Linked DNA regions of Homo sapiens. The protein of the gene in region 2 purifies or fractionates together with the protein of the main gene of each other region. This does not show direct contact. Each region holds a gene or a part of one and is shown on either strand. Other genes may lie near its edges.

The links.
Region 1: the proteins of NFIL3 (region 2) and SNX8 purify together in Homo sapiens (affinity purification with mass spectrometry; one large-scale study listed by BioGRID and IntAct). This does not show direct contact.

The regions. Positions count from the first base shown.
Region 1 is NC_000007.14:2,258,942-2,262,594, reverse strand, and holds part of SNX8 (sorting nexin-8), read left to right. Parts: intron 1-3,653. UniProt on the Homo sapiens protein: May be involved in several stages of intracellular trafficking. May play a role in intracellular protein transport from early endosomes to the trans-Golgi network.
Region 2 is NC_000009.12:91,417,191-91,420,843, reverse strand, and holds part of NFIL3 (nuclear factor interleukin-3-regulated protein), read left to right. Parts: intron 1-1,488; exon of another isoform or gene 1,489-3,653.

The DNA of each region.
Region 1 (3,653 bases), on a different chromosome or scaffold from region 2:
CTTTGCTGTCTGAGTCCACTAGGATTTGGCACTGGAGACTTAACTCATCAGAATAATAAAGCCCCAGCACCTGAGCGGCTCCCACCTCCCGCTCCACACACAACCTCAGGCAGTGCTCCTGCTGCATGGGCAGAAGCTGATTTCAGAAATTCGCCAAGATCTTGGAGTCATTTGGGATCAGTTTGAAGATACGGTGTTTACTATCACACTGGAAAGCTCATCTGGGTGCTTTTATGTTAAGAAAAAGTGTTACATGGCTGGGCACAGCGGCTCACACCTATCATCCCAGCGCTTTGGGAGGCTGAGGCAGGAGGACTGCTTGAGCCCAGGAGTTCAGGACCACCCTGGGCAACAGAGCAAGATCTCATCTCTATCAAAAATAAAAAAAAATTAGCCAGGGGTGGTGGTGCGTGTCTGTAGTCCCAGCTACTCACGAGGCTGAGGTGGGAGGATCACCTGAACCCAAGAGGTAGAGGCTTCAGTGAGCCATGATGGTGCCACTGCACACCAGCCTGGGCGACAGAGCGAGACCCTGTCTCAAAAACAAAAAAAAGTGGACATAGTTGTGAATGTGGGAGCTTGCTGCCTAGTTCCTATTTCTTGGGAAAGTGGCCTCCAGGCTACTCATATTAGTTTGAAGAGAGTGATCAGAGTGTGCCCGTGAGGGCTGTGCTTCCCCTGAGCCCCGGAGCTCCTGAGTGGCTTGGTGAATGGTGAACCCACCTGCTGTGGAGTCGGGGCTTTTTAAGCTGGAAACGGGGCGCTCAGGTGCCCGTGACGTTTTTCGTGCTGAAGAGGAAATTCGATGTCTTTGCTGGTGTGGAAAGTCTTGGGTTTTCTTCCTCTTCCGCCCCCGTGCTTCTGTGTTCCCTTTAGAAACGGAGGGAGGGCACTGTTGGTTTCTGTAGATTGGGGCTGAGTCTCTTCTGTCTCCAGGTCTGTGTGCCCACTCCCCCCAGGTGGAGGGGACCGAGAACGTGGGGCTGGGGGCTTTTCAGGATAGAGACAGAGGACCTCAGGGCCCTGCCCTATGCATTGTGTGTCTGTGCTGTGACCATGATCAAGCTATTCTGGTCTCCAGGCCTCAGTTTCCCCATCAATTAAATACAAGGGGGTTGGACTAGATTATTAAAACAGCTATTTCTTTTTTTTGTTTGTTTTTGAGACGGAGTCTCGCTCTGTCGCCCAGGCTGGAGGGCAGTGGTGTGATCTCGGCTCACTGCAACCTCTGCCTCCCGGGTTCAAGCGATTCTCCTGCCTCAGCCTCCCCAGTAGCTGGGATTACAGGTGTGCACCACCACACCCGGCTAATTTTTGTATTTTTAGTAGAGATGGGGTTTCACCGTGTTGGCCGGGCTGGTCTCAAACTCCTGACCTCAAGTGATCCGCCAGCCTCGGCCTCCCAAAGTGCTGGGATTACAGGCACGAGCCTCTGTGCCCAGCCAAAGGAGCTGTTTCTGTAATCTGCTGACCCTTTCCCCCAAGCTCAGTGTGCAAAGCATAAAAGCCATTCTTGTCACAGGGACCCAGAACCTTCCCACATTCCACTCCCTCTTCAGCAGGTGGCTGTTGGCGGGGTGCCCAGAGTGCCCTGGGGCTCTGCAGAGCTCAGGATGAGCATCACTCATGAGGTGATTTCCAAGGTTTTTTCTGATTCAGCCCTGGATGCCGCATTTCCACCTTGAAGAGGGAGAGAAGGTTGAGGCTTCTGGTGCAGTAGGAGTTTATGGCTTGAGGTTCTGCCCAGCTCTGTGACTCTTGGACATCTCATGAGTTGTGTTTTGGGACTGTGATGTCTGGAGAAGTGCTGTTTCCTGAATCTCTCTCACTGTCCTTGGTTGTAGTGAAATTGAGCTTTTACATGAAACAAACCTCGAGGCCTTTCATTTGATGCAGCAGAAGTTCCATCTCACCCTTGCTGTTCAGTCGGGGGCAGCGAGGACCGTTTTTCCTAAGTCTGCTTGTACTTACACCAGTTATACTCTCCCCAGACCTATTAGGAGCTGAAGGTAGCCATATCCCAGCAAGACACGTGAGACTCGGAGTAGGGTCTGTGTTTTCCATGGTGACGGGATCTTCGCCTTGGTTAAAGGCGCATGCATTAATGGTTTAGGGCACATTTGTCCAACCTGTGGCCCACAGGCTGCGTGTGGCCCAGGACAGCTTTGAATGTGGCCTAACACAAATCCGTAAACTTGGTTGGGTGCAGTGGCTCATGCCTGTAATCTTAGCACTTTGGGAGGCTGAGATGGGCAGATCACCTGAGGTCAGGAGTTTGAGACCAGCCTGGCCAACATGGTGAAACCCCATCTCTACTAAAAATACAAACATTAGCCAGGCGTGGTGGCGGGCACCTGTAATCTCAGCTACTCGGGAGGCTGAGGCAGGAGAGAATCGCTTGAACCTGGGAGGCGGAGGTTGCAGTGAGCTGAGATCATGCCACTGCACTCCAGCCTGGGTAACAGAGCAAGACTCTGTCTCAAAAAAAAAGCCAAATCTGTAAACTTTCTGAAAACATTATGAGATTTACACACAGACCTACCTACCTTCCTTCCTTCCTCTCTCTCTCTTTCTTTCTCTCTCTCTTTCTTTTTTCCTTTTTTGTTTTTTTTAGTTCATCAGCTATCATAGTGTTAGCGTATTTTATGTGTGGCTCAAGACAATTCTTCTTCTTCCAATGTGGCCCTGGGAAGCCAAAACATTGGACACCCCTGGTTTAGGGCCTTGTGCAGCACTGAACCACAGATGGGACTTGGTGACAAATGACACGAACAGAGGGACCCCTGAACTCCCCCTCTTCTGCTGGGCCAGGGAATAAGCCTACATTCTCCTGAGCCCCTGCCTGGTCAGGTGGGAGCTGGGCACCTGCGGTCAGCTGGCGTTTTCTCTCTAGAGTTTTAGAAACTCTTAACACACCTCTTCTCCTGGCACATTTTACTGGCTGGAATCCCAGCTGCTTTGGGTGTGGGGTTGGTGGCCGGGGAGCCTCCGGGTTCAGTCGGCCTGAGGTCTGGAGGGTGGAAGGGGTATCTTAGGGTCCCCTGGGGTGCAGCAGGGCCTGGGCGGCACCCCTGGCTCCCATTCCAGGGCTGTGTCCCGTAAAACTCGTTCCATCCACTTCTGCCTGCCCCGTCTCCTGCTGAGCTTGACGTGCAGTGCGTGGGGTGAGCTTTTCACCCCCTACCACGGGTGGAGCCCGAGGAATCGTGGAGGGAGCTTGGTCTCCCCGAGGTGCTCAGTGAGCTGTGGGGACTGAGGGCGTGAGCTGTGGGGACCGGAGCCCTTCAGGGCCCGGGTGTGACTGAAGGCGTCAGTGTCGGGGGTTTCCCCAGGATACCTGCCATCGGCCTGGCTTGGTTGCGGTTGTGGCTGGGGGGTCTGTGGTGAGCTGTGCAGGTCAGGGGTGGATGGGCTGCCGCTTCCGCTGCCTTCCCCAGACCCCTGCTGTCTCCAGAGCTTGGATGCTCCCCTCAGTGGCAGCTGGAGCCCAGGGCTTTGGACCGACTCTTCATACCGCAGATGCCTCTGAGCACCGTGTGTTCGGGCCGTGTGCACTGTGCCTGGCCTGCGCCCCCACCGAGGGCTGCTACTGGTGTAAGCCGGGGAGGCCGAGGCAGCGTCTGGGTGGGGTTCGCCCGTGGGGGCTGCTTCGT
Region 2 (3,653 bases):
AAATCTAAACGCCCACATAGACGCTGCTGTCCTACTGTAAAACTACAGTACTTTCATCCTCGCATAAAGACTTCCAAGATTGTACCCATGCAGTAATTCATGGAGACATCACAGATGTTCTCCTGAAGCATATCAACGCAATCTGCTCTTTGTTGAAAACTGACCGAAAACTTGCTTTCTTTGGCATCATACCCTACACCGCTATCCCTAATCAGTTTCCCTCCTGTTACAGGCAGTAGTTAGAGAACAGGTTTCGGTGAGGTACAGATCCTAAGAGCGCAGGCCCTGGGCTCACAAGAACCCTGGGTCCCAGGCCCCAGCTTGTTATCTTCCAACACTGTCCTGATTTCCATCACTCTCCAGGGTAAACTGAGGGAATAAAACCTGTTGACTTAGTTGGTTGTGAGGAGTTCAATAAATGTTTCCTGTGTTATTGATCAGGAACCAGAATCTGTGTGTGTGTGTGTGTGTGTGTGTGTGTGTGTGTGTGTATTTACCTTCATTTTTCTCTTTGTAAATCTCTTCGCAGTAACAGTAAGGATTCGTGTTGGAATTAAGTCTGTAAGATCTTTCTTGAGATACTTTTTTTGTTCTAATAATATATATATTTTTTAATTTGCCATCGTGTTCAATGTTAATTTCAGTTTGAGGGGAATTCCTGACAGGATTGCAGAACCTCAAACTTCCCAAGTCATTGGGTTAATGTTTTGGGGAGCTGCTTGAAGGAATAGAGAGATGAGTCGATTATAGTAGCAGGAATGACGTGACAATTGCCATATTAATAGCTCAGCTTTTTCCAATTCCCTTACACATTCTGTGACTCATTTTCTGTAGCTTGGATGATTTCTCTATCTAAAACTTTGTGGTCTGAGATCAGCAGTGGATGGTGAGACCCCACAGATAAGCTCTCTTGTAGGGGGTATATGTAGCCTGAAAACTAAGGCCAGTCCTGTGAAACTGTTGATATTTGACCCTTTTGACCAAATTTTCATTTGGTTTACCCTTACACTTGCGACATAGGTCAGGGCTTCAGTAAGAGTCACGAGCAGCAAAAACAGCCTGGAACTGATAGGCATCGTTGCCTTTTGATACTGATCATTCTTCAGAAAAGAGATAAAGAGTTAGTATTTACTAAACACATACTCTGCATGTGCCAGGCACAGTGTTGAGGGGCTCTGTTATCATCCACATTTCATAGATGAGGAAATGGAAACTCAGAGAAATGAATTTGCAGCCCAGGTCGCAGAGCCTGAAAACCAGATGGGGAAATTTGCACCTCAACAAAGTGTATTCTCACACTCACTGTAGTTTTTGAAACAATTTCCTTTTCTGGGTTAAAGACTTATTTTTGTGCAGTGCAGTTATAACATCACTGTGATGCAACAGCCTGAAAATTAAAACCCTTTGTGAGAGGCCTTTCGGACGTTGAGCAATGTGCCTGACTCACCAGCTGAGTGGATTTTTCTAGTTGACCTTGCCTTGGTCATTAGAGTCAATTTCGAGATGTAAATGCGATTGCAGCATGGAATGGAAAAGGTGCAGTCATATTGCCTGGGCTTTATTTTTACCCAGGTTAAACTCATATACTTCATGATTTCCATTGTAATCCAGATGCCATTGATGCTGTTAAAGTTGTTTATTTTTAATTTGTATTGAGGAATGAGAGCACACTTGGGATTCAATTCAAAATATAACAGAAACAATGTAATTGAAATTGCCTTTAATATTCATTTCTTGTTTTTGTAAGGTATGCCTGTATTTCACGGGGTTTAATACATTGTTTGATATCCTGTTATTTTTCTAAATTATATTTGAGTTGATTTCTATCCAGGTTGGACTTGTATGAGAATGTTGAAAGACGTTGACCTTTGATCACAGACATTACAATATGAATTTTTCAGTTTCAAAATGAATTTTTATTACTACTACCCCAGTTATCTTTCACATTTCTTTGTAAGTAACTTTACTGTAGTTAAAAAAAAAAAAAACACCCAAAACTGTTTCTCATATGGCTTTAATAATAGAGCATAAACTTGTTTTTATGATAAGAAAGTTTACTAGAGATTTGCTAGATGCCATTTGTTATTAATCTGTGCTTTGAGGACTCAGTTTCATAGGACTCAGAATGATGTTTATAAGCCTTTTAGTTATCAGAACATGATGTCTTTTATTAATTAGCTTTTTAGGGGTCTTAAACTGTAATTAACTGGCCTTCAAATAAACACTACAAATAAGCATTTGAAAATCCACTCTATTCATAAGGTAGAAAATGACATTTATAATCATCCACTGACTGGAAAAGTGGAAAAAGAAATTAAAAAGCCAAGTGAAGCAAGTTGGGATGATTCTACATTATCATTAGAAACTTTCAAGAATTTTCTCAGCCTGACTGTCCCCTTAGCCCACCATTTTTGCCATCATTACACCATGTTGCATGTATTACTTATTCATTGGGGAATTTTCTACAACTGGGTTACTTTGTGATTGTTGGTGTCCTTTTAAGATTTCAGATTAGTTGCTACACTGATCAGTTATCTTTTCAGAAGTTTCAAGATATTAATAGTCCCCACATTTAAGTTTCTATAGATTTTTAAAAAATTATTACTGTTCTGTTTTTCCCCCATGTTACTACCCATCTTTAGTGAGAGCTGTTCTTATTTCTCAAGCTGTGCAGTTAATTGGTCGTGCTAGCGTGTATGTGCTTACTCTGTGCAGGCTTCAGAATAATTTAATTGTGTATTAAGTTTCAAACACTGACGACCTCTTAAAGAAGAATGTTAAGTTATACTATTTCATATTTCAATTACTTAAATTACATCAGTGATGTAATAAAATGCAATGTTGTCATCGTATTTATTAAATTTAAATTTAATTTTCAGCTAGTCCTTTGTCGAACTTGAAATATTTTCATTTATCATAAACTGGATCAGGCTTTGACACATTTATTTACAGAGGCACCCAAATAGAAAAAGTAGGTCAATTTGTTGCTATGATAGAATAGATTCTGGCAGTGTGCGAGAGTGTGTGTGTATGTGTGTGTGTGCGTCTTGCCTGTCTTGATCAAGTGCACATTTCTCTCTAACTTTGGGGTAAGCTGCTTCTTGGGGACAGAATGGCCCTTAGAGAGGTTTAACATAGTTTTCTCAGCTTAAAAATCCTTCTCTTTTTCAACGGGATTAGAAAATTCTCTTGCAACTTCGGTGTTTTCTGACTGAGTTTTTTCACTCCCCATTTCCTCTGGGTTGTACATGTATAGTGAATTCTTTTCTTATTTCATCTCTGCTTTTAAATACTAGATTGTTTTCTCATCCATGAAAAGAAGTAAAGCATTTCATTGACGCAGATACTGTGAATTTTACCCACAGGAAGAAAATGTAGGGTTAACATATTGCTAGTATTCATACTTTAAAAGTATAAAGAGATGTGAATTGATTAATTGATTTGATTTTTTCATGAAAATGACATTTATCTAAAAAATAAGCATCTGCTGTCTTACTGGAGAGGTGGCTTACAGTTTAACATAACTTAGGTTTACCTTGAAGACATTTTTTTTTCCTTTACTGTTATCTGTATTATATAACAGGGAGAAAACAATACATTCAGAGAGTAGAGGGAAAATAAGATAATTCTATAATGTTTCCAAATCATTGGGC